7 linked regions of the Homo sapiens genome follow. The protein of the gene in region 7 interacts with the protein of the main gene of each other region in a pairwise test. Each region holds a gene or a part of one and is shown on either strand. Other genes may lie near its edges.

The links.
Region 1: the proteins of RNF11 (region 7) and VDAC2 interact in binary tests that used the Homo sapiens proteins (3 or more experiments, as listed by UniProt).
Region 2: the proteins of RNF11 (region 7) and LHX6 interact in binary tests that used the Homo sapiens proteins (3 or more experiments, as listed by UniProt).
Region 3: the proteins of RNF11 (region 7) and WWOX interact in binary tests that used the Homo sapiens proteins (3 or more experiments, as listed by UniProt).
Region 4: the proteins of RNF11 (region 7) and LPIN1 interact in binary tests that used the Homo sapiens proteins (3 or more experiments, as listed by UniProt).
Region 5: the proteins of RNF11 (region 7) and RNF14 interact in binary tests that used the Homo sapiens proteins (3 or more experiments, as listed by UniProt).
Region 6: the proteins of RNF11 (region 7) and PRPS2 interact in binary tests that used the Homo sapiens proteins (3 or more experiments, as listed by UniProt).

Annotation. Positions count from the first base shown.
Region 1 is NC_000010.11:75,220,553-75,224,646, forward strand, and holds part of VDAC2 (non-selective voltage-gated ion channel VDAC2), read left to right. Parts: intron 1-190; coding exon 191-418; intron 419-1,699; coding exon 1,700-1,850; intron 1,851-4,094. UniProt on the Homo sapiens protein: Non-selective voltage-gated ion channel that mediates the transport of anions and cations through the mitochondrion outer membrane and plasma membrane.
Region 2 is NC_000009.12:122,204,707-122,208,800, reverse strand, and holds part of LHX6 (LIM/homeobox protein Lhx6), read left to right. Parts: intron 1-4,020; coding exon 4,021-4,041; coding exon of another isoform or gene 4,042-4,094. UniProt on the Homo sapiens protein: Probable transcription factor required for the expression of a subset of genes involved in interneurons migration and development.
Region 3 is NC_000016.10:78,102,380-78,106,473, reverse strand, and holds part of WWOX (WW domain-containing oxidoreductase), read right to left. Parts: intron 1-4,094. UniProt on the Homo sapiens protein: Putative oxidoreductase. Acts as a tumor suppressor and plays a role in apoptosis. Required for normal bone development. May function synergistically with p53/TP53 to control genotoxic stress-induced cell death.
Region 4 is NC_000002.12:11,749,082-11,753,175, reverse strand, and holds part of LPIN1 (phosphatidate phosphatase LPIN1), read right to left. Parts: intron 1-4,094. UniProt on the Homo sapiens protein: Acts as a magnesium-dependent phosphatidate phosphatase enzyme which catalyzes the conversion of phosphatidic acid to diacylglycerol during triglyceride, phosphatidylcholine and phosphatidylethanolamine biosynthesis and therefore controls the metabolism of fatty acids at different levels.
Region 5 is NC_000005.10:141,975,166-141,979,259, forward strand, and holds part of RNF14 (E3 ubiquitin-protein ligase RNF14), read left to right. Parts: intron 1-3,137; coding exon 3,138-3,665; intron 3,666-4,094. UniProt on the Homo sapiens protein: E3 ubiquitin-protein ligase that plays a key role in the RNF14-RNF25 translation quality control pathway, a pathway that takes place when a ribosome has stalled during translation, and which promotes ubiquitination and degradation of translation factors on stalled ribosomes.
Region 6 is NC_000023.11:12,793,939-12,798,032, forward strand, and holds part of PRPS2 (ribose-phosphate pyrophosphokinase 2), read left to right. Parts: intron 1-4,094. UniProt on the Homo sapiens protein: Catalyzes the synthesis of phosphoribosylpyrophosphate (PRPP) that is essential for nucleotide synthesis.
Region 7 is NC_000001.11:51,242,631-51,246,724, reverse strand, and holds part of RNF11 (RING finger protein 11), read right to left. Parts: intron 1-4,094. UniProt on the Homo sapiens protein: Essential component of a ubiquitin-editing protein complex, comprising also TNFAIP3, ITCH and TAX1BP1, that ensures the transient nature of inflammatory signaling pathways. Promotes the association of TNFAIP3 to RIPK1 after TNF stimulation.

The sequences.
Region 1 (4,094 bases), on a different chromosome or scaffold from region 7:
AGATGGCTGTCCAGTTGCTTCATGTGTCCTTGTCTTGTAGTTCATTGAGCTGACTTTTTTACTCCCTGTTATTGTATTGCTGATTTTTACTCCCTGGTCATACTGCAGTTTATTTAAGTCTGTTTTGTGCTCTCTTGTGCAGAAGTGTGTGTAAATTTTTCCCAATGACATCAGTTTGTTCTTTTTCCAGAAAGAAAAGTGGTAAAATCAAGTCTTCTTACAAGAGGGAGTGTATAAACCTTGGTTGTGATGTTGACTTTGATTTTGCTGGACCTGCAATCCATGGTTCAGCTGTCTTTGGTTATGAGGGCTGGCTTGCTGGCTACCAGATGACCTTTGACAGTGCCAAATCAAAGCTGACAAGGAATAACTTTGCAGTGGGCTACAGGACTGGGGACTTCCAGCTACACACTAATGTGTAAGTATTTCTTTCATAGGATACTGTGATGTGGGCCCTCAGAGGATGATTTTGATGTCTGTCATCTTATTGATCTGGGTGCACCCTAAAGGATTTCTCATAACATTTAAAAACAAAATCATTCTTGGTCATTTCTAGGGTGCCCCTTGAAAGTTTATAGTAGAAGACTGTTAGTCTGACCTTTGGTGCTGAGAGAGTAAATGTTCATTTTATATGGGGTTTAATGTGCTTTGTATTTTTACAAGAGGCATTATATATTGGCAGACTGCTACCAGTACATTCATTTTACTTAATTATTTTGATGTGTGAGATGCTGACTTGATAGGATTGCCTAAAATGTATGGTGTTTTGTGGTTGGGTTTTTTTTTCTTTTTCTTTTTTCTTTCTTTTTTTGTTTTGGTTCAGACAGAGTCTTGCTCTTTTGCGATCTCGGCTCACTCCAACATCCGCCTCCCGGGTTCAAACAATTCTCCTGCCTCAACCTCCCAAGTAGCTGGGACTACAGGCGTGTGCCACCATGCCTGGCTAATTTTTGTATTTTTGGTAGAGACGGGGTTTCACCATGCTGGCAAGGCTGGTCTGGAACTCCTGACCTCGTGATCTGCCAAAGTGCTGGGATTACAGGCGTGAGCCACTGTGCCCGGCTATTGTTGTTTTTTTGTTTGTTTGTTTTTAATTATTTTTGTAGAGATGGGGTCTTGCTATGTTGCCCAGGCTTGTCTCAAACTCCTGGCCTCAAGCGATCCTCCCGCCTCAGCCTTCCAAAGTGTTGGGATTATAGGCGTGAGCCACTGCATCCAGCCTGGTGTTTTTACCTAGCCCAAACTAGATAGATACATAGAAAGTACTTAAAATGTTTTTCTTTCCATTGTAAAAATTCATTGGTAAATAACAGAAGCACAAAGAAGAAAACCTACGTTTCTTACAATCATGCCAGCTAGGTATATAATCTTTGTTAATGTTGTGGTTCACCTTTTTATATGTGTGTGTATATATACTTATATATAAAATACGTAACCAAAAGGCTGTTTGAGAACCTCTTGCATGTTTAATACAGTGTGATAATTCCACTGAATGGATATTCTGTGGTTCATTTTACCAATCCCTGTATGGGTATGGGTTGGGGAAAAAAACCTGTTAAAACTTGCAAGTTTTCAGTGGAACACTAAAGACCCACTTGAGCTGTGGTTTTTTATTTAAATGTAATGCTACAAATCAGCCTGTGCCTTAGACATTATTACATTGTCTATTCTAGATCTACTAATTTAAAATATCTTATAGCAATGATGGGACAGAATTTGGAGGATCAATTTATCAGAAAGTTTGTGAAGATCTTGACACTTCAGTAAACCTTGCTTGGACATCAGGTACCAACTGCACTCGTTTTGGCATTGCAGCTAAATATCAGTTGGATCCCACTGCTTCCATTTCTGTGAGTACTTTTGTGGACTTAGAATGGGGGTTTTGGTTGTGGGAATGAGTCTTTGGGTATACTGAATTATGTTGAAAATTTGAACTGATTTCACACAGTCCCCAGTTTACAGATAGATTAGTTTTAGATTTTGAAATGCGCTTTTTTGATGGATACAGTGTTAGACGTTTTATTTCCAGGCCAGGCTGGTGGAGTTTGTTTAACCTCAAAAGCTGCCGAGTTAATGTTGATGATAACCTTGAGCCATAGGCCTGTCTAAGTCCAGGTATAGCTGGTGTTTGGTCCCTGAGTGGTTCTTACTGTGTCAGAAATAATAGTGCTTTTTTAAGGCTCTCTGTTGTCGAGGCTGGACTGCAGTGGCACAATCACGACTCCCGGCACCTTGACATCCTGGGTTCAACCTCAGCCTCCTACTATTCCCAACTAATTTTTTGATGTTTTTTTGTAGAGATGGGATCTCCATATGTTGCCCATCCTAGGCTCAAGCTATCATCCTGTCTCAGCCTCCCAAAGGAGGCTGTTGGGATTATAGGCATGAGCCACTGCACCTGGCTAGTATTTTAATCATCACTTTGTCTTTTTTTTTTTTTTTTCTTTTTTGAGATGGAGTCTCTGTCGCCCGGGCTGGGGTGCAGTAGTGCGATCTTGGCTCACTGCAACCTCCGCCTCCTGGGTTCAAGCAGCTCTTCTGCCTCAGCCTCCTGAGTAGCTGAGATTACAGGTGCCCGCCACCACACCTGGCTAATTTTTTTGTATTTTTTAGTAAAGATGGGATTTGTTGGCCAGACTGGTCTCAAACTCCTGACCCCAAGTGATCCACCCGCCTCAGCCTCCCAAAGTGCTGGGATTACAGGCATGAGACACCACAGCTGGCCGCCTTCTCCATTTCTAATTGCACTACAGCAATAAAAACCTCAAGATTCATACAGTACACTATTCTGTTACTTACATTGATGTTCTTGGATGTCTGTGGCATTTTAACAGATTTAATGTAAGTGGAAGAAGCTTCTCTCAGCTACTAGGAGTTCATAGTTAAAATGGGAAGGCAGCTTGGGACCCCTGTGTCATTTAATGACTCCTGGGAATTAGTTTGGAAATGTACCTAGCCTTTCCCACTTCAGTAATGTTAGCTGCCACTCCAATTCAGCAGTACCCAGAAGCATTGCTTAATGCTCCTTGTGATATTAGGAAGTATATATTTGGTTCTCCTTCCCTCTCCTGGCATAGAACTCCTAAAAAATCCTTGGAATCCCGAAAGTATTAAGTATCTTTTTGTATGCTAATGAGTTTTGACTGGTGGCTGGCCACCTTTAGGTAGCTTCGGGCTGGAGGCTAGTCAGTGGAGAGACCAAGGTGTGATTAGAGGGGGTGGGGAGAGGGGCTGTAGGTTTAATTGTTCACCAATGGCTAGTGGTTTAATCAGTCATGCCTGTATAATGAAGCCTCATGAAAACCCACAAGGACAGAGGTCAGTGAGCTAGGTAGCTGAGGTTACTGGAAGGTGGCATGTCTGGAGAGGGCATTGAAGCTGTGTCCCTTCCTATGTTTTGCACTGTACATCTCTTCATCTGTATCCTTTGTAATATCCTTTATTAAAACTGGTAAATGTAAATAAAGTGTTTCTTGAGTTCTGTGACCTGCTCTAGGAGATTAATTGAACCCAAGAAGGGGCTTGTGGGAACCTCTGTTTAGAGGTGCCAGGTCAGAAGCAGAGTTAAAACAACCTGGGGCTTGCAGTTGGCATCTGAAGTGGGAGGAGGGCAGTCTTGTGGGACTAAGCCCTTAACCTGTGGCATCTGATGTCTCCAGGTAGAATTAGAGGACATTTAGCCAGTGTCTGCTGCAGAAATTATTGCTTGCTTGGTGTGTGAGGAAAGCCCTCACACATGTGGTCACAGAAGCATTCTGTGTTGTGAGAGAATAGTAGGAGAAACTGAGTTGGTTTTTTTCTGTATCCTCAGAATTGATGTCAGGATTGGGATTTGCTAGAGTGGCTCTAGCTAGAGTGGCTCATCGAAGCATGGTTTAGGAAGAAAAAGGATAAATGGATGGGAAATGAGGAACTTTTGACTCCTGGGTGGTCAGATGGTCACCCCTGCTATGGAGCCACAACTGTGCTGTGCTCAGGTACTTAAAAATTACCAGTGGAATTCAAAGATAGATCCAACTCCAAGGGAGTTGGTTCACTGGGTGCATAAGGAAACGCAAACAATAAGAAACAAACAAAATATACAATCCCTTGAT
Region 2 (4,094 bases), on a different chromosome or scaffold from region 7:
TGCAATGGCGCAATCTCGGCTCACTGCAACCTCCACCTCCTGGGTTCAGGTGATTCTCCTGCCTCAGCCTCCCGAAGTAGCTGGGATTACAGGCGCCTACCACCATGCCCAGCTAATTTTTTTGTATTTTTAGTAGAGATGGGGTTTCGCCACGTAGGCCAGGCTGGTCTTGAACTGCTGACCTCAGGTGATCCACCCGCCTCAGCCTCCCAAAGTGCTGGGATTACAGGCGTGAGCCACCGTGCCCGGCCGAACCTTACATTTTTTAATTCACTGACTTGTTTATTTGGAGACATTTCCTATGTCTTGTCTGTGCCCAGCATCCATGAATCTGTTGCTAGGAGTGGAAACAAGTAAAGTGTGGTCCCTACCCTTGAGGAGGCCAGAGTCTGGAGGGGGAGGCAGATCCCAACAGTTACAATACAGTGTGACAGGGGAAGCCATGGGAGCTGGGGAGGGGGAAGGGGGCAAAGGAGAGAGGCAGGGAAGACTTCCCAGAAGAGGCAACCTCTAAGGCCAGGCCTGAAAGCTGAGGCATCAGGGAAGGCATGAGACACCAGAGCTCTCAGGGAACCCTGAGCCATTCAGCATTGTTGGCAGGCATGTCTGGGAGGATGAGAGGAGGAAAGCGAGAGCCTTGAGGCTGCCAGGTGGAAGAGTCTGTATTTTATGCTGCGGCAGTGTGGGGTCCTGGAGGGCCTGCTGCAGAAACATCACTGTAGCAGTCTTCAGAGACTGCTGGGTTGGAGGACACCCAGTAGGAAGCAGGGATCCCTGGAGGTCAGTGGGTGTGGCAGTCCCTCGGAGGGAGAGGGTCAGAGCATTAGGGCTGGAGTCAGGAGCCCTCCAGTTCAGCAGATCCCGGTCTTGGTGTGCTCGGAATCACCTGGGCAGCTTGTAAATATACAGAGATTCCTAAGCCTCGCTCTCAGAGAGTCTGTTGGGGTGGGATATAGGGATCTGCGAGTGTAATACTCAGCCTGTGTGATTCTAACGGGCAGCCGGGGTGGGGACAGCTCCTTTAGGATGGTACCTCTGGCTCAGCCTCCTGATTGAGCTCAGTACACCTAGTATGTACTGAGCTCTCTGTGCCGGGCACCACAGGAGAATGTGTATGGTGTGGAGGTACAGACAGCCCTGGACAGATACATTTGTAAATAAATGGTAGTGCCTAACGTAAAATCCTGCAGAATCTGTAGTGAGTGAGCATGCCCCAGGAACACCATCGCCGCTGAGACTGTCACATCCATAGGAAGAGCTGCCGTTTGCTGAGCTCCTTCTGTTCAAGGCAGCTACTTCTCACATGGCATCTGGTTCACACCTCCCAGCCACTTTGTGGACATAGAGATGGCCTTCTCATTGTAAAGAGATAAACAGATTCCGAGAGGTGACATGACTTGTCCAGGGATGCAGCGAGTCTGTCGGACTCTGAAGTCTGCGCGGCTCAGTAATCACTTCCTTTTGTGCAGCACTTCATTGTGTACACAGCCCTCTCTCCGACCTCATCCTTCATAGTCTCCCTGGGAGGGTGATTGCGATGACCTCCATTTCACACTTGCAGAAACGGAGGCTCAGACAGAGCAGTGCTCATCCAGAATCACAATGTGAGCATGGGCAGAACTGGCCGGGATCCTAGAGCCACCTGCCTCAGAGCTGTCCCTTCCTGTGGGAGGGGATTCATCCTATTAGACCTGGCTCTGGGACTGCAGAAGTGAGCTGACATGATCCCTGCCCTCAGGGAGCTTGTGGCTTAGCACAGGGTGTGGGCAGTTACATTGCAGGGGAATGGGCAGCTGGAGTAGGCGAGAAACTTGACCTTAGAGGACCCAGAAGAGGAGGCAGTGAGCTCTAGGGGAGAGACAGGGGACAAGAAGAAGGGTGTTCCACATCAAGAGAACCGCATGTGCAAAGGCCCAGAGGCATGGAGGAGCTTGGGCCGGAGGGGACCCTGGGGGACGTTCAGTGTGGCTGAGGTCCAGGGAAGTGGGGAGAGCCGACAGGGGCCACAGAACAAAGGATCATGGAAAGAGGGTCTTGGACATTATGTGGAGGGCAGGGATGGGCCCTGGAGGTACAGAGGGCTGGGCTCAGTGCTTGGAGAGGAGCCTTTGCCTCCTGGTTGCTCAGCTAAGCTTGTGGTTCTGTCTCATTCAGCCTGGGGGATGAGCCATGCTGGGGGCTGTCAGATTTGGCTATAGACAGTTTCTGGCTTCTGGATTTGGCTGCTGAGCCAGAGTTTTCCCTTGCTGGGCTGTGTCCCCAACTTTGCACCCAGAAAGTCTGCATTAAAGTGTCTCTCCCTCCTTCATGACCTTCTGTCCTCTCACTGTCAGGCCTTTCCGCCAGCTCCTAGGGACTTTTCTTGTCCATAACTCTCAAATTCCTGGGGCTTGGTGGGCGGCAGGGTGTGGTATGTGTGTGGCCAGCACAGGATTGTCTGGGCTTTCTTCCAAGTCCTTCCAGGCCTGAGCCTGCCTAGCTGTGAGGAGACTCAGTGTCCCCATGGGGCTGGCCCCTGAACCCACTCATCTAGACCAGCACTGGCCTGGCCAGGAGAACAGTGCTCTGAGCACTCAGGGGAGCATCCCCTGCCTCCACCGCATCGTCATTTGGCCACACACACCTGTGAGGTTCCAGAGCCACATTTCTTCCTGGTTGTGTCCCCTGATCCCACAAATCCAACACTTGGAAAGTTCTTAGAAATCAGGGCTAAGCTGTCATTGATCAGTGGAGGAGACTGAGACCCATGGAGGGGAAGGGTCCTACCAGGGTCGCCACTCTTGAGAGAGCTTTTCCTAATAAGGGCTAAAAGCCAGGCATTCTGGAGGCCAAAGTGGAGCAGTGGCCAGGGTGGGGAAGGAATGCCCACCCTGGCCACTCTGGAGTTAGGCCAGCTCGGAATCCCAGCTCTGCCACCTCCCCTGTGAGATCTGGGAATGCAATTAGTTTCTCTGAGCTGCGGTTTCTACATCTGCAAACTGGGGATAATAATAGTTCCCACTCCGTAGGGTTGCTGCAGAGAATAAATGCATAATGTGTGTAAGGAGCCCAGCACAGAGCCTGGTGCACAGAAAATGCCCCCAGGTGTTGGTTATGATCATGATCACTATTATGGTGATCATCATCATTGCTTTCCTCCATCACCTCCTTGTGATAACCAGTTCTGGGCAAGTAACATTCCTGATCAGAAAAGGGAACAGCCATGTAGTCATGCCCACCAGATGCCCCTCACACTTTACTGTGAAATGACACATTGCCATTGACCAGCCAGCCAGTGATCCTTGACCTGAACTTCAGGGAACTGGCTGTGTCAGCAGCAGTGAGATGTCAACCAAGTGCTAGAGGTGGGAGTGGGAGGGGGAAAGGGACAGACAGTCCTGATCTCCCACTGTGTATCGGGCACCCAGTGTGTCTGAGCCACGCACTTCTAGGCTTCGTGCATGTGAAGATTAAGCGCATGTGAAGTGCTTAGCCCGTGGCCCTGTGGGTAATAAGCAGTCAGCCACTATGGTCACGGTGACCTTGGAAAGGTAGAGGCAATGTGCTTTGGTAGGGAGAGCTTGCTGTGAGCCAGGCCTGGCCTCCAGTGCCAGGTCCTCCTCCTCGCTGTGTGCCCACGAGCTCACTCGCTTCCACCTCTTTGAGCCTGAGTGCCCTCCTTGTAAAACAGAACGTTGGAACTCCCTCACGGGGCTATGGTGCGGCTTCCGTGAAATCAGGCACAGAAGGTGCAGGGTGAAATGCCCAGAAGGCTTTTGCTGCTGCTGTTGTATCTCATTGAATCTCTCTGATTCTCAGAGAGAGATTTTGTCATCCTTGTTTTAAAGATGAGGAAACAGGCTCAGAGAGGTGCAGTGAGTTGCCCAAGGTCCCACAGCAAGTCAGTTGACAGAGCCAGGATTTAAACTCAGATCTGGGCCCTGAGTCCACCCTTCTTCTCTGTGCCTTTGAGGTTCTCTGGGGGGCAGCAGGGTGGGGCAGGCCCCCAGCTCAGCCACCTCCCATGCCCTCCTCTTGCAGGTCATCCTTTTTCAGTACTAACGCTGCCGGCACTTCCGCATCTGCCCGTGGGCGCCCCACAGCTGCCCCTCAGC
Region 3 (4,094 bases), on a different chromosome or scaffold from region 7:
TCCAGCCTGGGCAACAATTGTGAAACTCCATCTCAAAAAAAAAAAAAAAAAACAAAAAAAAACCGTTCTGACTCTCTGGCTCTCTAGTAAGGATAACCCGCTCTCTGCTGGCACAGTGGGAATATTGGTATACCAACTCCTGCTTCTCCTTCAAAATGAATGGCAACAGCAATCAGATAAACCAAGCATTGGCAATAACATGAAACCTTCCAGCCCCTTGCAGAGCTGTGTCTCAAGCTTCTTCAAGAAAGTTAAGAGATGGACTTGCATTTTCCTTGCCTGCCATTAAAAGCAGTCTTTATCTCATAGGCACACATCAAATGTGCTTGAAGCCTGGCTCCAAAAAACTCTGCCCTCAAGAATCCATGGAGTGGCGGGGTACGGTGGCTCACGCCTGTAATCCCAGCACTTTGGGAGGCCGAGGCGGGAGGATCGCTAGAGCCCAGGAGATCGAGACCAGCCTAGGCAACATGGCAAAACCCCATCTCTACTAAAAATACAAAAATTAGACAGACATGGTGGCACATGCCTGTAATCCCAGCTACTTGAGTGGCTGAGGCATGAGAATTTCCTGAACCTGGGAGGTGGAGGTTGCAGTGAGCCAAAATCACGCCACTGCAGTCCAGCCTGGGCGAAAAAGCAAGACTCAACCTAAAAATAAAAAATAAAAAAATCCACAAAATGACCCTTAACAGTGGAAGCTGAGCCTTGTTGGCAGGCAGGCTGGCATAGAAAGAGCCTCCCAGCCCTTAGAAGGTGAAGCTGGGCCCTCAGACATGTAGCCTCATGCCTGGCCCACAGCAGGCGCACAAATGTAAACAAACAGAATGAATACTTTCCAAAGGAACTACAAAACTCACTCAGAACAGTTTTTATTTATTCAGAAAGACATTTAAAAAACAAAACAAACTCTGTCAACCTACGTTCTTGACTTTCACAGAACATGCCTGAATCAGGGTTTCTTATTCTCACTGCTGGTGGCACTTGGGGCTGGATCATTCTTTTTTTTTTTTTTGAGACAGAGTCTCACTCTGTCACCCAGGCTGCAGTACAGTGGTGCAATCTCAGCTCACTGCAACCTCTGCCTCCCAGGTTCAAGCAATTCTCCCGCCTCAGCCTGAGTAGCTAGGATTACAGGCACCTGCCACCATGCCGGGATAATTTTTGTATTTTTAGTAGAGATGGGGTTTCACCATGTTGGCCAGGCAGGTCTCGAACTCCTGACCTCAACTGATCCACCTGCCTCGGCCTCCCAAAGTGCTGGGATTACAGGCGTGAACCACTGCACCCGGCCTGCATCATTCTTTGTTGCGGGGCTGCCTTGGGCACCACTGGCCTCTGCCCATCAGATGCCAATACCCCAGTCCCATAGCTGTGGCAACAGAAAGCATCTCCAGACATTGCCAGCCGTCCCCTGCAGGACACAACCATCCCTGGGGAAGAATCCGGAACCAGCTGAAGCAGAGAGAGTAATTTGGTCGTGAAGATTCTGAAGCCCAACTGCCAAGGTTTTCTGGGTCTCCCATTTGCCAGCCACTCTGCCCTTGAAGAAGTCATTTAATCCCATGCCTCAGTTTCCTCAACAGTTTAGATGGGGACAATAACAGCACTTACTTCTTGGGGTTATAGAGAACCGAGTGAGTTAACACGGGAAGAACTAAGAACTGTACCTTTCAATAGAAGACTTTTTTTTAATAAATATAAAAATTAATTAAAAGATGTTCTTTTTAATTATAACCTTAAATGACTTTTTAATGAAGAGAAAATTAGAACACATGTCCCCTAAGCATTCTCCTATTCTCCTTTAAATAGAAGCCGTCTTTGATTTTTTATTCTTTCAACGAGCTTGTCATTTAAAAAGATAATTAAGAGTAATCTAAACTTAAACCAAAGGATTCAAATTTAAGTGAACATCATATTATGTGAATACCACACTTCCACGTATGGGGTGTTTTCTGTTAATTTTTTTTTAGACAAGGTCTCATTCTGTGGCCCAGGCTAGAGTACAGTGATGCAATCATAGCCCACTGCAGCCTCGAGCTCCTGGGCTCAGGCGATCCTCCCACCTTGGCCTCCCACCATGGCCAGCCTATGGGTGTGTGTGTGTGTGTGTATGTGCGTGCATGCGTGCGTGCGTGCGTGTGTTTTTTGAGCACAGTGTAAGTTAGCAGGGAGATCTAGAGTTGACAGTGAGGACAGCCAGTGTGTGTGTGTGTGTGTGTGTGTGTGTGTGTGTGTGTGTTTTGAGCACAGTGTAAGTTAGCAGGGAGATCTAGACTTCACGGTGAGGACAGCCAGCCCTGTGGACACAGGCACCATTGAGGCCTCTGACTGCCAAAAGGCCTGAGCTTCATAAGAGGCACGGGGAAGGGCAAACAAGGACGGCTCTGACACTGAGACCTTGTCCCTCACTTCCCATCTCCCATGAAGGGGCTGCTCTGAGACTGTGAGGGGAGAGGGGTAGAAGAAAGGCCCACCAGCTCTCTTGGGTTCCCGGTCTACCTCGACCTCACCCCTGGGAGCCCACCCTGGTGGGCTTTGGAGTGCTAGGACATGTGTGCCTTTGAGGCACACAAGTGAACCGTGAGGCAGGTGGGAAAGCAGGAGAGGCCGACAGCACCCACACAAGACCGGGTTCCACCAGACCCCGAGGTCTCAGTGGGAGCTACAGCCTCTATCCCTGGCCATGGCCCTGCTACAGTAGGAGAAACAATATGGAAAAGAAATGACTCAAAGAGCAGCCTCCTAGAAAGAACAACCACAAAGTTTCCCAAACCCCAAGAGAAAAACAAGTGTCACTTCCAGAGTCAGGAATGAAAAGGGGTTGGAGCCAGCGCAAAAATTAAAACTGAAAAGAAAAGAAGGGCCAGGATGCTCACAGATCAGGAGAGATCAAGGGAATGTCGGGTTAGGATGGATCAGAGGCATCCTAAGCTAACACCCAAAGAATTTCAGCCTTTCAACCCTGATCCAGAGAACTGAGGGCCAGCAGGGACGGACACAAGGTCCAGAGAGTGAGCCCTCCAGCTGAGAGCCAGCCAAGCCCTGGCATCTCAGCTGGTGTATACAATAAATAGCTAATGCACGGGGGGCTGAACAACTAGGTGATGGGTTGACAAGTGCAGCAAGTCACCATGGCACAGGTTTACTTATGTAACAAACCTGCACATCCTGCACATGTATCCCGGAATTTAAAGTTAAATTAAATTAAAAAAAAAAAAAAAAAAAAAACAGCGGAGCCAGAGAGGCCAGCTTGAGATTTAAGACACTAGTCGGGAGGGCTGGAGGAAAGGCGTTTGGAAACCATGTATGCACCCGAGTCCCCTGGCCAGGGGCCACTCAGGAAGAAAGCAGATGGGAGAAAGGCCAGGCAGCAGGAAGGCAGGCGCAGGGGGCACGCAGGAGCAAGGGAGCCCCAGGGCCCTAGCGCCAGGCTCCAGGGCAAGCCTGCAGGGAAGCAGAAGCACCTCTGGGGCTGAGTGGCAAAGGAGGAGACGCCCCACAGAGCCAGAGGCAGAGGTGGGCTTAGGAAGCCGGAAGCGGGTCATGTGCATCTTTGTACTCTGGGGCCCAGTGCACCACCCACCCACCCACAGAAGCCTGCGGCTGACCCTCCCAAGGTGATTCATTTACTCATCCCACAGGGGCTCATCTTATGGCTTCTGGGTGCCAAGCACTGGGGACACTCAGATGAACAAGCTGCCCCATGACATCTGCAACCTGGGCAAGGGAGACAGGGCCAACAAGGAGGAGTACACAGCCAAGGCTAAGCACGAAGAAGCAGAGAAACAAGGTGACTAGTACAAGGTCGAGGGGACACCCACAGTTAAGAAGGTCTCTTGGGCAGTGACATGTAAGCTCAGCTCTGAAGGATGAGAAGGAGCCTTTCCCCAACAGATGTACAGGTGAGAGGAACAGCAAGTGCCCGCTCAGGAGCTTGCCTCCGTCCCTGCAAAGGCTACTGGAGCTCTGCTGCTGGAAATGTCCCTTTAATTCTCCAGAGCCAGAAATTCTTCCAGAATTCACAAGCTGAATGAATGCCACTCTCTGGCTCTGCCAACAGAGCCCAAGCTTCTCGGCAAGGCACAGAAATC
Region 4 (4,094 bases), on a different chromosome or scaffold from region 7:
AGCTCTTGCAGTGAGCTTCCAGGGTGGCAAAGTGGCAGGCGTCTCCTCCTCCAGCACACCCCCACCCTGCTCATCCCCCTCCTTGCCCAGGGACAGGAGGGCGTTCCCATAATTAAGCTCATCTGTAGAACTCCAGCACACAGCAGACGCTCCAAAGCATTCACGACCGCAATTTCATACAGTTCCAGAAAGGACAGCACTGCGGACACTGTCAGGATGAGGTGACAGAGGTCACATGGTTTCTTGCCTCACGATTAAATTAGAAAATTCCACATTTATTCCAAAATTGGCAGAATCCATCTCCAGGCTTCACAAATTGCCAAGAAACGCTGCTTTCTTGGAACTGCCAAAATTCAAAACCCCTGCCACAGCTTTCCTAACCCCACAATTTTTGCCAACACCAGCCACCTCTAGAAGATTAAGGTCAGTTTAAAATGGCCTTGGAGGCCGGGCGCGGTGGCTCACGCCTGTAATCCCAGCACTTTGGGAGGCCGAGGCGGGCGGATCACGAGGTCAGGAGATCGAGACCATCCCGGCTAAAACGGTGAAACCCCGTCTCTACTAAAAATACAAAAAATTAGCCGGGCGTAGTGGCGGGCGCCTGTAGTCCCAGCTACTTGGGAGGCTGAGGCAGGAGAATGGCGTGAACCCGGGAGGCGGAGCTTGCAGTGAGCCGAGATCCCGCCACTGCACTCCAGCCTGGGCGACAGAGCGAGACTCCGTCTCAAAAAAAAAAAAAAAATGGCCTTGGAACAGCTCAAAAGAAAAAATGGACAAAACATATAGACAGTTCACATTTGGCCAATAATATATGAGAGAGATATTCAACCCCATTCATAATTAAAGATACAGGAATCGAAAGAGGCCTTTCAGATGGTCCAAAATCAAAGCATTTCATTAAAACCCCAGGGCCCATGAAAAGTAGGAGAATCAGACATCGTCACTCACTACTAACAGGGTCATAAATGGGGTAAGCAATGTGGCAATGCCCATCTTTTGGGGCACCTATTGGCAAACCCTAGCAACTATACCGCTGGGAACTGATTGTACAAATACAGTAAGATCCGTGTACAAAAACAGTAACTGTAGCATTAATTGTAATAGGGAAAATCAGAAATAACTTAATATCTGTATGACTCTGGCTTAATAAATTATGGGCCATCCACATTGTAAAATGGAATATTATGAGGCTGATAATAAAATGGTAGAGAGGTAGCTCCATAAATATTAACATGAAAATGTATATATAGAATGAAAACAGGTACAAAAATACTTATAATATGGACCCATTGTGGTTTTTTGTTTGTTTGTTTTGTTTTGTTTTGAGACGGAGTTTCGCTGTGTTACTCAGGCTGGAGGGCAGTGGCGCAATCTCGGCTCACTGCAAGCTCCGCCTCCCAGGTTCACGCCAATCTCCTGCCTCAGCCTCCCGAGTAGCTGGGACTACAGGCGCCTGCCACCAGCCTGGCTAATTTTTTTGTATTTTTAGTAGAGACGGGGTTTCACCATGTTAGCCAGGATGGTCTTGATCTCCTGACCTCGTAATCCACCCATCTCGGCCTCCGAAAGTGCTGGGATTACAGGCGTGAGCCACCGCGCCCAGCTGGACCCATTTTTAAAAAATTACATTTGTACATATTTTGATATGCATAAAAAAATTCTGGAATGAGATACATACAAAACAAGATTCACAAGATTCACCCCTGGGGACCAGCCTGGGAAAAGGAGGAAGAGATCTTCACTTTTTATCATAAATACTTCCCATAGTGTTGCTTTCTAGCTTGTGTTTTTTATGTCTGCATGTATTTCATGTCAATTATTAGTAACCTCAGAGAACTGGGAGTGAAGGATGGAAAACTCTGGTCCACTCAGTCTCAGGGTCTCCATCACTGAAACCACTGAGACAGGACAGGGTGCTGGACAGGGGTACTCCTGCTTTGGAGGGAAGGTCAGATGAGTGATCACTCAGCTCCTCCAGCGCTGACACTTTGCAACCCTCAGATACCACAACCCCAGGTGACGCTTGTTCTCACGTTCCTGCCAAGAAATACAAATGGCCTGGATAAAGGTGGGTGTAGACATCTAAATATGGTATGACAACTATGCTGAGCAAAACAGCCCAAGGCTTTGACTCCGATCCTTTGGCTCTTAATTATTTAGCTCACTGATTAAGGACAGGACGTTCTTTTCCTTCAAAGACCCAATGGCACATTCTCTCTACGCACTTTCAAGAGCCCTCTGTCCAAATTCGTGTCTTGGTCAAAAAGAATGCTCTGCCCTTATAACTTTATTTCTGTATTACCCCCCACCCCTACCACACCCCAGCAATTGGGAGGTGGGCATATATCACCTGGGTGTTCCAGGGCACTATTAGGAGACAATATAGCTCAGCAGGTAAGAGCGCAGGCTCTGGAGGTATTCAAATCCTGCCTCCACCTTCCACTAACTCTGTGATCAAAGACAGGTTACTAAGCTCTCTGCACTGCAGTTTCGCATCTATTTTATAAAAAGGGATGACATCAGCACAGCCACCTCATAGGACTGTTGTGAGGCAGTAAATGTAAAGTACTTTTCAAAGCACATGCACCAAATAAAAACCACGTGCTAATTCTGTGACCACAAACTGGTTCCAGACAAAATCCGGTCTTTGAATAACGTCTCTTGCCAGAGGGGACTTTGTATATATCACCTATTTAAATAGTACCTTCCCAAAAAGACAGAGGCAAAGAATATTACTAGTTAAAATGAATACAGAACTATTTGAAGGCTATGCCTACATTCCACATTCTCATTTGCCCAAAATCTGAGCCCAAAGAGGCCACCCCGAGACTGGTGGCATTCTGGCATTGCACAGAGTCCAATGGTGGGACATTGTTTTGCCAGAACAGTTGTCTGGGCGCCTGTCTTGTCTGGTGCCCATTATCCTAAAACCCTTGTTGCTTGTCTCCTGTCTTGTAAACTGAAGACCTACAGCCTAGTGAGATCCATGAACGCGGAGGACGACTTCATCAAAAAGTGAGTGTGTGTGGCTAGGGGACAGAGGGCAAGGGGAGAGGTGCGAGGGCTTCCAGGGAGCGAGGCCGGGGAGGGGAGGGGGGCACAAGTGCGTGCCAGCAGGCAAATGGGGGTGTTGGTTGTGTCTCCCATGCAGGGTCTGTGGTCAACTTTGTGAGCCAATGCAAATCAGCTCACACTCAGGAACAAACAGGCCTCCTTACAGAGCAAAGTGCCTGTTCTAACAGCCTATGGCTATTTCTGGAAAGCCCCAGCATTCAGCATCAGCCGAAAATTTTAAGTTGTTGCAAGAATCACAACATTTGGTCAGTGGGTTGAAAAATCCACTGTAACCATGACCCTGTAGCCATGACCACCGGTGTGAAAATGCTTCTGGCTTCTCTCCTGATGGAGCCCAGTCCATCTGGTTCCTCCCAACCTCTCAGCTGGGAGTGGGAGCGGCACAACGCGCCCTGCATCCCTCAGTGTGCAGAACAGCCTGTGGGCCAGACACTGCTGAGGTTTTAAGACTCCTGGGCCACATACCTCATTGTGAAAAGTGTCAGCCTGGGTCTGGGTCAGCCCAGACCCAGAGCTTTCTACAGGCAGAAACTCACTACTCAACATATCCCTGGCTGCACAGACCCCACCCCAACCCCAGCTGCTAAGGGCTTGTTGGGGTGAATTACAGGTAGGGAGACAGACAGGGGAAAGCTGTGGAAAGAGGAAGAGGAAGGGAACCCACAGGAAGGGAGGTCAGGGCACTTGCTTCGGACCCCAGCAGCCCCAGGGCCCAGTGTGGCCTCCTAGGGGGCACAGATTCCCTTCAGGCGCTGGTGCATCCTCTGATCAAGGAGCAGGGCCAGTGTGGGTGTGTCCCCTCGACACACAGGCATGGGCCCCTCTCTCTCTCCAGACCCTCCCTCACAGCTCAGAAAGCGAACATTTCAGAAACAGCCATCCGATAGGCACCTGGGCCTCTTCTGAATGAAGAACCTGTGACGTCACTGAACGGCTTTGCTTGGGTTTTGTCCCAACTCTTTTTTCCCCACACACCCCGTTCCAGTTTTAAATGAGTGGGCTTATTATACAATACATTG
Region 5 (4,094 bases), on a different chromosome or scaffold from region 7:
ATGAATTGTAGTAGGAGTAATTTTTAATCAAGTATATTATTTCTTTTCTTGTCTTGCTATTTTCCTGTTTAATCTGTATTATAATGGAGACTAAGAGGTCTTCCTCATTTTCCTTAGACATTGATACTACTTTTCTCTTAGTTTCTTATCCATTCCTTAAATGAAAGATTCCATTGTAATTAGGACTAAAAATTGAGCTAATGTAGTTATAATAAGCAAATTTTCTGAGTGAATACAATAACTGATTTTCTTTGTAAAAATCTGTATTAATAACAAATAACAGTCAACTGGTATCACGTAGACATAAATGCATACAAGTAGAAATGTGTATAGTTCCTGTAGATATCTCAGTAAGGCTTGAGGCCTTATGTTAAGCACCTCATTTCCTCTGGGTTATATATACTTTTCTAGTAACAACCTCAACTCTTGATTGAGACATAAATATGGCTTGAAGCTAAATATAAATAATATAAAGCATTCTGGGAGAGATAATGAATCAGCAGCTGCTTTTCTAGAAGTCATAATGAAGATCAATAGACTAATGTGTATTAAGACAAAAGCTCAGCCTGTGCAACATGGCGAAACCCAATTTCTACAAAAAATACAAAAATTAGCCAAGTGTGGTGGTGCGTCCCTGTAATCCCAGATACTTGGGAGGCTGAGGTGGGAGGATCACTTGAGCCTGGGTGGCAGAGATTGCAGTGAGCCAAGACTGAGCCACTGCACTCCAGCCTGGGTGACAGACAGAGACCCTGTCTCAAAAAAAAAAAAAAAAGAAAAAGACAAAAGATGTCAGAGTTGCTGACCTCAAGGAATAGCTCATTAGTTTTTCTCTTTGGATCATACAGTTTTCATTTCCCCATCCACCAATCTAATCTTTTAAGTGAGAGTACTTTCACAAACTAGAGCTTATGGTTTAAAAGCAAAATTAAACCTTAAAAAGGATAACACAGGTAGAATAAAAAGGAGTATTACTTTACATTCTAATGTCTGTGCCAGAGGCAACAGATGCAAGACAGTTGATTTGTCCAGGAATATCAAGACTGTTTGGCATTTAGGCCACTGATAGTTGGCTTAATTATTTAGATCTTCATAGTCCTATTTCACCAGAGAGCTTTTCATACTTTACATCCACGCATGTGCGTGCATGCACGTGCATGCACACACACGCACAAAACAGGGACAGATTAACTGGATGCGTGGTTGTGGTTTCAGATTCCAGCCAACCAGCATCTACTTAATGCTGGATTTGGGGGCGGAGGTGTGTGCTGGGGAAGAGAGTTGTTTTATGTGTTACAGCTAAAATTACAGTAGAATTCTTAATCAAATAAATGTTTATGCATATAATTAACATTTTAATTGGTCTCTTATATTCCTTCTTGGTTCAGTTCTTGTTTGTTGCTGTACCCTGATTCCTTGGCATTATGACTCTCACCTGTTAATGGTGAAATTGACACATAGAGCTGTCATTCCCTGAATTGGGGCGGGTAGACAGAGGGAAGTGGTTTTAGTTTTCTAAAACCTTATTCCTTATTCCTCCCCCAATATACTTACACAGTCTCTTTCCCGTCCCCCTTCCATTTACATGCATTCCAGCTGCCTTTCTCTCTCTTTTTTTTTTTTTTTTTTTTTTTTTTTTTTGAGATGGAGTCTTGCTCTGTCACCCAGGCTGGAGCACAGGGGCACAATCTCAGCTCACTACAACCTCTGCCTAGTGGGTTCAAGTGGTTGTCCTGCCTCAGCCTCCCAAGTAGCTGGGAATACAGGCGCCCGCCACCACACCTGGCTAATTTTTTGTATTTTTTAGTAGAGACAGGGTTTCACCATGTTGGCCAGGCTGATCACCAACCCCTGACCTCAGGTGATCCACCCGCCTTGGCCTCCCAGAGTTCTGGGATTACAGGCATGAGCCACCACGCCCAGCCCCAGCTGCCTCTCTTGAGAAGGGACTGGGGTAGAAAAGAGGTTGGAGAATGGCTTCTTCATAGGACTTGGTAGCTCACACAGCACTCATAGCTTCCCTTTTAGTATTTATCACATTTTACAGATGTTAGCAGATTTCTCAAAAGCATGGTTGATTTATAAGGATATTTATGCAAATGTGAAAAATCATTAGTTGTTCAATCTTAACTCATCAATAAGTATTTAAGGTAGTACCTATGCAGGGTTTAGTCAGTGGCACTACACAGAGTGTAAGAAACAGAAAATCTGGTCCCTTTTCATTTGTCATTTAAATTTACAAAATTTGTTTGCCATCTGGAAGGCATATTTTTGGATGTTTACCTAAAAAAGAAAAGCTGCTTATAATTCCTGTGCTCTAGTTAAAAATATTTTATATTTCTAATGGAAAATTCTCCAACATTTGCCTTTCAAATTGAACAGACCACTTTTAAAGAGGAAAATTCCAAATAATTTAATTTTGGTTGCTTAGCTTAGGAAGTGTAAGCTTTCTCTATGGCTGCCAAACCTTGCTGAGGGCTTGTGATTAGGACCAGGGTCAATATCAGGCAGCTTCCCTCCATTAACCAGGATCTGATATAAGCCCAGATTGCTTACTTAAAAGCAGCTTGTAAATCTGAACAAGGACTCTGAGGTTGAATTCTGTTAGTGATTGTTTCAGATGAGTTGACTTTTTGATAAAACTGAAAGAATTAATTTTAAAACTTGGATAGTATTTTTAAACTATTCTTTTTCTAACCATTATTCTAGGATACGAACAGGGCTAGGACTCCTAATGGAAGAAAAATAGTTTATTTTTAGAACTAGATCTCTTTGTCCTACATGAGGTATATGGCAGTACTAAAAGATTAAAGAACAGAAAAAAGTCTTCCATTTCAGTGGCTAAAATGTACAGCTATTTCTCTACCTTACGGAGTCTTGCTATTTCTCTTCTTCTCGTGGTACTTCTTGCTTCTGACTTTATGTTCTACTCTGGCTCATGTTGCCGAATAGTTTAAGAAGTGCTCCAGTAAGAATGTTTGTACTGTTTTGTATGTAGCACAGTGTATCACAGCAGTAAAAAATAGTGTTAGAATAAGGGCCTAACTTGCAAGTGGAAAAGATTTCTAGGGAAACCAGGAGTTGGCAGCAGCATCATCTTTCCAAACTCACCAACATCTTCATGTGTTTTCTCCTAGCTATCTGCTCTATGCAAGCACTTAGACAACCTATGGGAAGAACACCGTGGCAGCGTGGTCCTGTTTGCCTGGATGCAATTTCTTAAGGAAGAGACCCTAGCATACTTGAATATTGTCTCTCCTTTTGAGCTCAAGATTGGTTCTCAGAAAAAAGTGCAGAGAAGGACAGCTCAAGCTTCTCCCAACACAGAGCTAGATTTTGGAGGAGCTGCTGGATCTGATGTAGACCAAGAGGAAATTGTGGATGAGAGAGCAGTGCAGGATGTGGAATCACTGTCAAATCTGATCCAGGAAATCTTGGACTTTGATCAAGCTCAGCAGATAAAATGCTTTAATAGTAAATTGTTCCTGTGCAGTATCTGTTTCTGTGAGAAGCTGGGTAGTGAATGCATGTACTTCTTGGAGTGCAGGCATGTGTACTGCAAAGCCTGTCTGAAGGACTACTTTGAAATCCAGATCAGAGATGGCCAGGTTCAATGCCTCAACTGCCCAGAACCAAAGTGCCCTTCGGTGGCCACTCCTGGTCAGGTAACTGTTTACCCTGCTGATGGTTGCCTCCTAATTCTCTTCCATAAATGGAGATATCATCTCAGGAACTTCCTTGATAGGGCTCATGGGGCAGTCCGAGGCCTTGGAGCCAGCCCACAAGTTGTTTTGCTGTATCCATTAAAAATGCTATGGTCTTAGTCTACTGCTTAAGCAAATGGAATGCTTCCTTTGGCCTTGCAGTGGGCAAGGATGAGTGTTAAAGTAGTTATTAAGTAATTGTGATAATTTACTTTGTATATCTGCTAGTAGGATCCCATAAACCTTGGGGAATCACTAGCTTATTCTTGTGTGAGGTTGGCATCTGAAGGGGACGTCTCTTAGAATGATTAACCAACTTTTTTATAGACTTCAGCAGAAGTACAGCCTACTTAGGTGGTGGTGGTGTTGTTGTTGTTGTTGTTGTTGTTG
Region 6 (4,094 bases), on a different chromosome or scaffold from region 7:
TGACATCTTAGGACAGCAGGTGTCTAGATGTCTCTGTTGTAACATTTTACTATGGTCAGTTAACCTGCTGGCAGAATCTTTAGCTATACTGTGAGACAAGGTTATGCAAAGTTATACAAGGTTATCGGTTACCATGTAATAAATAAAGAGCTTAATGGCTTAAAACAGTAATTGTTGATTTGGCTTACAAATCTGCAATTTGGGAAGGGCTCAGTGAAGAAAGCTTGTTTTTGCCGCGTATGGTCACAGCTGAGGCTGGTCACAGCTGAGGCGGCTAACTGGGGCTGGAGGGTTCTTGAAGATGGCTCACATGACTGAAGTTGTTACTAGCTTTTGCCTGGGAGCTTGGTTAGGAACCTCAGCTCCTCTTCTTGTAGGCCTCTCCATGGGGCTGCTTGAGCTTCCTTACAGCATGGAAGCTGGGTTCTAAGAGCACATGTTCCAAAAGACAGGACATTGAAGCCACCAGTCCATTAAGGACTGGGCTTGCAAGTTGGTGTATCATAATTTCTGTCATATGCTGTTGGGCAAGTACAGAGCCCTCTCAGATTCAAGGGCGGGAGACTAGACCCTGCTCCTTGATGGGAAATGTGTTAAGAGTCTGTGGCTATCTTTTAGTTACCATGCCCGTTTATTGTTGAGTCAGTGACGCTCTTCAGCGTTTTTATTTGGGGGTCAATAAAGATCCTCTGGCAGAATGGCAAATGGATGCTGCCTTCTAGCCACAATTTTTTAAAGACCTAGAATAAAGGTAGTCATGATCATCTTTTTGAGTAGAAGCAGGACTAGCTTTAGGGGAAAAGTTGCCATGGTGATGATATTCTCTGTCCTCCCCTGGACTGCTAGTCATATGAGAACTGAGGTTCCTGAGTAAAAACAGGCCAAAGAATCTAATCTTGTGGGATAAACGTCATAAGACCAGGAGTTGGCAAAGTTTTTCTGCAAAGGGCCAAATCGTAAATATTTTAGGCAGTGCTAGCACATGTAGTCTCTGTTGCTGCGGTATCTTACAGTTCTGTAAGTTACGGTAATGTCTGTCACAGGTTAGCAGGGCTGTATTCTCTTCTGAGGCTCTAGGGGAGAATCTGTTCCCGTGCCTTTTCCGGTTTCCAGAGGCAGCCCACATTCCTTCACTATTGGCCTCTTCACCTTCAATGTCAGCAACAAAATGTTGCTCTGACCCTGCTTCTGCTGTCTCCCTCTTGCATTTTTAAGGGCCCCATGATTACAATGGGCCAATTTAAATAATCCAGGATAATTTCCCCATGTTAAGGTCAGCTGATGAGCAACCTGAATGCTATCTGCAAATTTACTTCCCCTTTGCCATATAAACTCACATATTCAAAGGATTAGGATGTAGACATCTTTAGGGGGCCATTATTCTGCCTACCACGCCATTCTTAACTCACAGGCCATAGAAAAACAGCCTATGTGCTGTGTTTTGTCAACCTCTCAGCTATATAATACTGTACTTGATTTCTGCTGTAGTTCATTTTGTGCTGCTATAACAGAATACCAGAGACTGGCTAATTTATAAACAATAGAAATTTGTTTCTCACAGGTCTGGAGGCTGGGAAGTCCAATACTGAGGGGCTGGCATCTGGCAAGGGCTTTCTTGCTGCATCATCCCATGGCAGAAGGGTGGAAGGGCAAGAGAGCATATTTGAGAGAGAGCAATAGAGGGCCAAATTTGCTAATATAATAAACCCATTCTCAAGATAATGAGCACACTCTAGCAATGATGACGTTAATCCGTTTGTGAGGACAGAGCCCTTATGACCTAATCACCTCTTAAAGGTCTCACCTGTCAATACTCCTATACTGGGGATTAAGCTTTCAACACATGAACTTTAGGGAACACATTTAAACCATAGCAATTTCCAAATTAAGTTTATGTCATAGTTGATGTAGTGTTCACAAAGCAGTTAGATTTAGCTCCTTAGATCTTCAAATAGGAGGGAGCACATAGAACTCTTTCTATCCCCCTCATCCTGTGAGGTTGGCATATTTTCATCCATAGTAGAAGGCGTGCAAGAAGATGTGTGAATGTTATCAAAACTAATTTTCACAACATGTCAACTTGAAAAACTTTATTTTTATTTTCCTTTTCTTTAAAATTTTTTTTAGAGACGGGGTCTTGCTATGTTGCCCAGGCTGGACTAGAACTCCTGGGCTCAAACAATCCCCTTGCCTCAGTCTCCCAAGTAGCTGGGACTGTGGGCATGAGCCACCATGCCCAGCCTGTTTTTAAATTTTCATTAGGTATAATTGGCTCTTTTTTTTTTTTTTTTTTTTTTTTGAGACAGAGTTTCACTTTTGTTGCCCAGGCTGGAGTGCAATGGTGCGATCCCAGCTCACTGCAAGCTCCGCCTCCCGGGTTCAAGTGATTCTCCTGCCTCAGCCTCCCGAGTAGCTGGGATTACAGGCATGCACCACCACACCTGGCTAATTTTGTATTTTTTAGTAGAGATGGGGTTTCTCCATGTTAGGCTGGTCTAGAACTCCAGACCTCAGGTGATCAGCCCACCTTGGCCTCTCAAAGTGCTGGGATTACAGGCGTGAGCCACCGCGCCCAGCCTTAATTGGCTCTTTTAAGAAAACAATTTCATTGAGTATCTGATAGCAGGAGAAGAGAGAAGGATAATTATTCATGTTCCTTATTTGTAATTTTAAAATATTTCATTTTGGGATGAATAAATTTACAGACAATTCTGCCATAATGTGACATATGTATTCCTAAAAATTACCACGCTATGCAAAATCAGGCAATCCAAAACCACAGGGCTTATGAGAAAAATGGGGTTAGGGACATAACATTCAAAAACTTCCTCAGTGACCCATTAAAAAATCATAGGAATGTTATATAGATTGAGCATCCCTTATCAGAAATGCCTGGGACAACAAGTATTTCAGATTTTTTTTTTTTTTTTTTTTTTTTTTGCATTTTGGAATATTTCTATTGTACTTACTGGTTGGACATTCCAAATCTCCAAAAATCCAAAATCCACAATGCTCCAATGACCATTTCCTTTGAGCATGATGTCGACACTCAGAAAGTTTCGGATTTCAGAATTTCGGATTAGGGTTCCTATCAAAATGGTAAAACACTGACATGTATTACATGCTCAAAAAATACTGGCTGGGTGCAATGGCTCACGTCTGTAATCCCAGCACTTTGGGAGGCTGAGGTGGGCGGATCACTTGAGGTCAGGAGTTCAAAACCAGCCTGGCCAACATGGCAAAACCTCCCTCCACTAAAAATACAACAAATTAGCCAGGCGTGGTGGTGCATGCCTGTAATCCGAGCTACTCGGGAGGCTGAGGCAGGATAATCACTTGAACCTGGGTGGCAGAGGTCGGAGTGAGCTGAGATGTCACCACTGCCCTCCAGCCTGGGCAACAGAGTGAGACTCTGTCTTTAAAAAAAAAAAAAAAATTACATAAATATTATGACAGAGATGGAACTTTCCATTGAAAAATGCCTGAGGTTTAGGGTTCTCTGAAATGACATGAAAAGTTGTGACACCAAATGTGAATGAGTGTGGCTCATTGTCCTCGAGGTGTGTACATGTGTATGTTTGTGTATTTCTAAGTGGCTCCATTCAGCTGGGTACACTGCAGTTTTCTGCAGTCTCGGGATAAGAGGTTGTGCATAAGAAAACATGAAATTCATGCTATGCTCAAATTGTTCCAAATAATATCAATCATTGGAACAAATTTGCCTTTTCAAAACATAGCAGAGCTGACCATCTTCTTGGTTTGGACGCAGAGCTCTGGGAAGGACATGCCTGAGCACACAGCACTATTTTCTGTTTCTTCCCACCAAAGGAATATGCCAGGGATGAGCTGGCTCTCCCTCTCATGTTGGACATCCAGAATTCTGTACCTGGAAATACAGAAACTTCCAGACATGCAATTTTCAAAAACTTAGCTGCTATTTACTCTTTCTCCAGAAGCTACGCAAGGATGCCAACCAGCAAAACAAGGAAGTATACCAAGAAAGAGGATACAGAAAATGGCAAATGGAGTGCAGGAGAGGGGGCAGGGAATCCCCGGATGGCAGCTGTGCACAGGCAGAGAGATAACCCAGGCCT
Region 7 (4,094 bases):
ACTCTCCACTTACAGCCTAAATATTTTCTTGTAGAAATGGGAGTCTCACTGTGTTGCCTAGACTGGTCTCAAACTCCTGGATGCAAGCAATCCTCCCGCCTCAGCCTACCAAAGCGCTGAGATTACAGGTGTGAGCCACCACACCTGGCCTTCCCCATGCCCCCATTCACTCTGTTGCCCAGGCTGGAGTGCAATGGTGCCATCACAGCTCATTATACCTTCCAACTCCTGAGCTCAAGCATTCCTTCTGCCTCAGCCTATAGCTGGGACTACAGGCATGTGCCAACACACCTGACTAATTTTTTATTTTTTTGTAGAGACGAGATCTCGCTATTTTGCCCAGGCTGGTTTCGAACTCCTGGGCTCAAGCAATCCTTCCCACTTGGCCTTCCAAAGTGCTGGTGTACAGGTATGAGCCACTGCACACAGCCTGTCGTCTTCTTTTTTGTTGTTGTTGTTGAGATGGAGTTTCACTCTTGTTGCCCAGGCTAGAGTGCAACAGCGCAACCTAGCCTCAACACAACCTCCACCTCCTGGGTTCAAGAGATTCTCCTGCCTCAGCCTCCCAAGTAGCTGGGATTACAGGCATGTGCCACCACACCCGGCTATTTTTGCATTTTTAGTAGAGACGGGGTTTCTCTATGTTGGTCAGGCTGGTCTCAAACTCCTAACCTCAGGTGACCCGCCCACCTCAGCCTCCCAAAGTACTGAGATTACAGGTGTGAGCCACTGTGCCTGGCCACCTGTCTTCTTTCTTGACTGTGTCTCAGCCAAGGTAAATTCTGCACATGAAGAGGGAAGTGATAAGAGGTTGATTGCAGATACAATCAGAATTAGAGATGTGTTGTATTTCTTTTCTTGCCTCAAGTCGTTTGCAAATATGTCTTTTATGTATTACCTTCCTTACTTCAGGTACAGAGTTAGGGATGTATTTCTGTCCTGTACTCATATGGGTTATTAAAAATAGGCTGTTGGTGTCCAGCCCAGTAGCTCACGCCTGTAATCTCAGCACTTTGGTAGGCCTAGGTGGGTGGATCACGAGGTCAGGAGTTAAGACCAGTCTGGCCAACATGGTGAAACCCCATCTCTACTAAAAATACAAAAAATTAGCCAGGTGTGGTGGTGCTTGCCTCTAATCCCAGCTACTCAGGAGGCTGAGGCATGAGAATCGCTTGAACCCAGGTGGCAGAAGTTGCAGTGGGCTGAGACTGCACCACTGCACTCCAGCCTGGGCGATGGAGTAAGACTCCATCTCCAAAAAAAAAGGCTGTTGGGTGGGCATGGTGGCTCACACTTGTAATCTCAGCACTTTGGGAGGCCGAGGTGGGTGGACTGCTTGAGTTCAGGAGTTTGAGACCAGCCTGGGCAATATAGTGAGACCCCGTCTCTACTAAAAATACAAAAAATAGCTGGGTGTGGTGGTATGCACCTGTGGTCCCAGCTATTCAGGAGACTGAGATGGGAGGACTGCTTGACCCGTCTCTACAAAAAATAAAAATTAGCCAGGCAAAGTGGTGCACGCCTATAGTCCCAGCTACTCAGGAGGCTGAGGTGGGAGGATGGCTTGGGCCCGTGAGGTTGAGGCTTCAGTGAGCCGTGACCATGCCACTACATTCAGCCTAGGCAACAGAGTAAGATTATGTCTCAAAGAAAGAAAAAGAATCCCAATCTACATAAGTATTTCTATTAAAACTTTTAAAGATCAAAATTCTGCAACAAAGGTTTCTACTATTACCTAAAAAATATTTTAAGAAAATCAAGTGCTCAGATCTTATGTACCAAGTAACTCACCATCCCATCTCCATCTTCTCAAGTTACCCTATAATTAGCTCTAGAATTAAACTCTGAACAGACTATCTTACTCTTAGTGATGCATACAATCTTAATGCCAAAAAATCAGCCTTTATTAAAGCACATTCAGAATGAGAGGTCAGGCAGAAACAAAGAAAAATCCTGCAACAATGGGGTCACACAAATAACAAATAACTGGTTACTTATTTATAAAAGTCACCTAGGCAAGCTGAACTTCATGGAACACAAAACCAAATTCAGGCTGGGCGCGGTGGCTCACGCTTGTAATCCCAGCACTTTGGGAGGCCGAGGCAGGAGGATCACAAGGTCAGGAGATCAAGACCACGGTGAAACCCCGTCCCTACTAAAAATACAAAAAATTAGCCAGGTGTGGTGGCGGGCACCTGTAGTCCCAGCTACTCGGGACAGGCTGAGGCAGGAGAATGGCGTGAACCCGGGAGGCGGAGCTTGCAGTGAGCTGAGATCGCGCCACTGCACTCCAGCCTGGGTGACACAGCGAGACTTCGTCTCAAACAAACAAACAAAAAAAAAAACAAATTCAAAAAATATATAATGAAATTAACTTTCCCAAAGCTCAACGTACTTTATAAATTAGAAGTGATAGGCCAAACACTAAAGCACAGGATTCTGGGAATGCTTAATAGACACTAACAACCATACAATTGCACACTCTTACAGCAAAATGCTGATCATTACATTCACTAAAGTATAAGTGCGTGCTTTGTGAAAATTGTAGTTCTAGCAATGTGAAAATGAACCAGACTTGAATTCTAAAAGAGCAGATGTGACACTGTCACAAATAATTAAAATTAAAAGGGTAAAGTGTCTTAAGAATGGTGCATGAATAAAGGAGTTCAGATTAAGAAAAGTGTATGTAGGAGAAATCAGAATTCGTGGATTCTTGGCATTTGAACTGGGCCCTGGATATTAGAAATGAGACTGGGAAGGATTAAGGAAGAACATTCTGGGCAATGGATACAGAATGGGCAAAGACAGGAAAGCAGAAGACATACATGGAATACAGCAAACTGCTCAGTATGACTGGAGTATACAGGTTGTATAAAAGAAAGCACAAGGCTATGAAGAGCTGAAAAAGTATATGTAGAGCCAAATCATGACTTTGAATGCTAAGTCAGATATCTTCAGTGGTTAGTCCTAATAAAGAATCATTAAGGGCCGGGCGTGGTGGCTCACGCCTGTAATCCCAGCTCTTACGGAGGCCAAGGTGAGTGGATTACCTGAGGTTAGGAGTTGCACACCAGCCTGAGCAATATGGTGAAACCCCATTTCTATTAAAAATACAAAAATTAGCTGGGTGTGGTGGCGCATGCCTGTAATCCCAGCTACTCGGGAGGCTGAGGCAGGAGAATTGCTCGGACCCGGGAGGCGGAGGCTGCAGTGAGCTGAGGTGGCACCACTGCACTCCAGCCTGGGCAACAGAGTGAAGACTCTGTTTCAAAAAATAATAATAATAATAATAACAATCATTAAGGATTATGAGGCAAGTGATCTGATCCGGGATGAAATTTATCTGGCAACATGGTATAAAATGAATGAGGAGGAGACATCAATTATGTTGCTGTAAGAACTGATGAGGACAATTATGATGGTGACCTTACAAGGTAAGAAGTCACAGTTCTAATTTAGTCTATCATCAAATATTCACTGGGTGTCTACAATATGGAAGGTAACATTCTACTCCACTAAGATATCTTACAAGTTTAATGTATCATTCTCATTCTTGAGGAAACTGATGTGGAGAAACAACTGTTAAAGCAACAAAAGCTAATAAGGCAATATATGATTTCCAGATAAATGTTACAAACACAAAAAAACTGTACATGACAAATCAGCAGAGACAGGAAAAAAATGGTCAGTGAAGGCTTTATTAACAAAGGTGGAGTTAGTTGATCTGCCCCTCAATAAGAAGGCTGAACTTCTTGAGCATAAAGAAGGGGAGGGATAAAACTTCAAAAAGGTAAATTGTTAAAAGCTGAATAATTGTATAATAAGGCCTAGATACGTGAAATAAATTTGGAGATATTTTCCACCCAAATGTTAAACAAAATGCTAATAAAAAAACACAACCCTTTAATTATCTAAATTTAACTTCGTAAGTTATCAGGAAAATGAGGCATTAATATACCATTACAGGCAGGGCACAGTGACTCACATCCGTAATCCCAACACTGGGAGACATGGTGGGAGGATCACTTGAGCCCAGGAGTTCGAAACTAGCCTGGGCAAAGTGAGACTCCATCTCTAAAAAAAACAAGCCCATC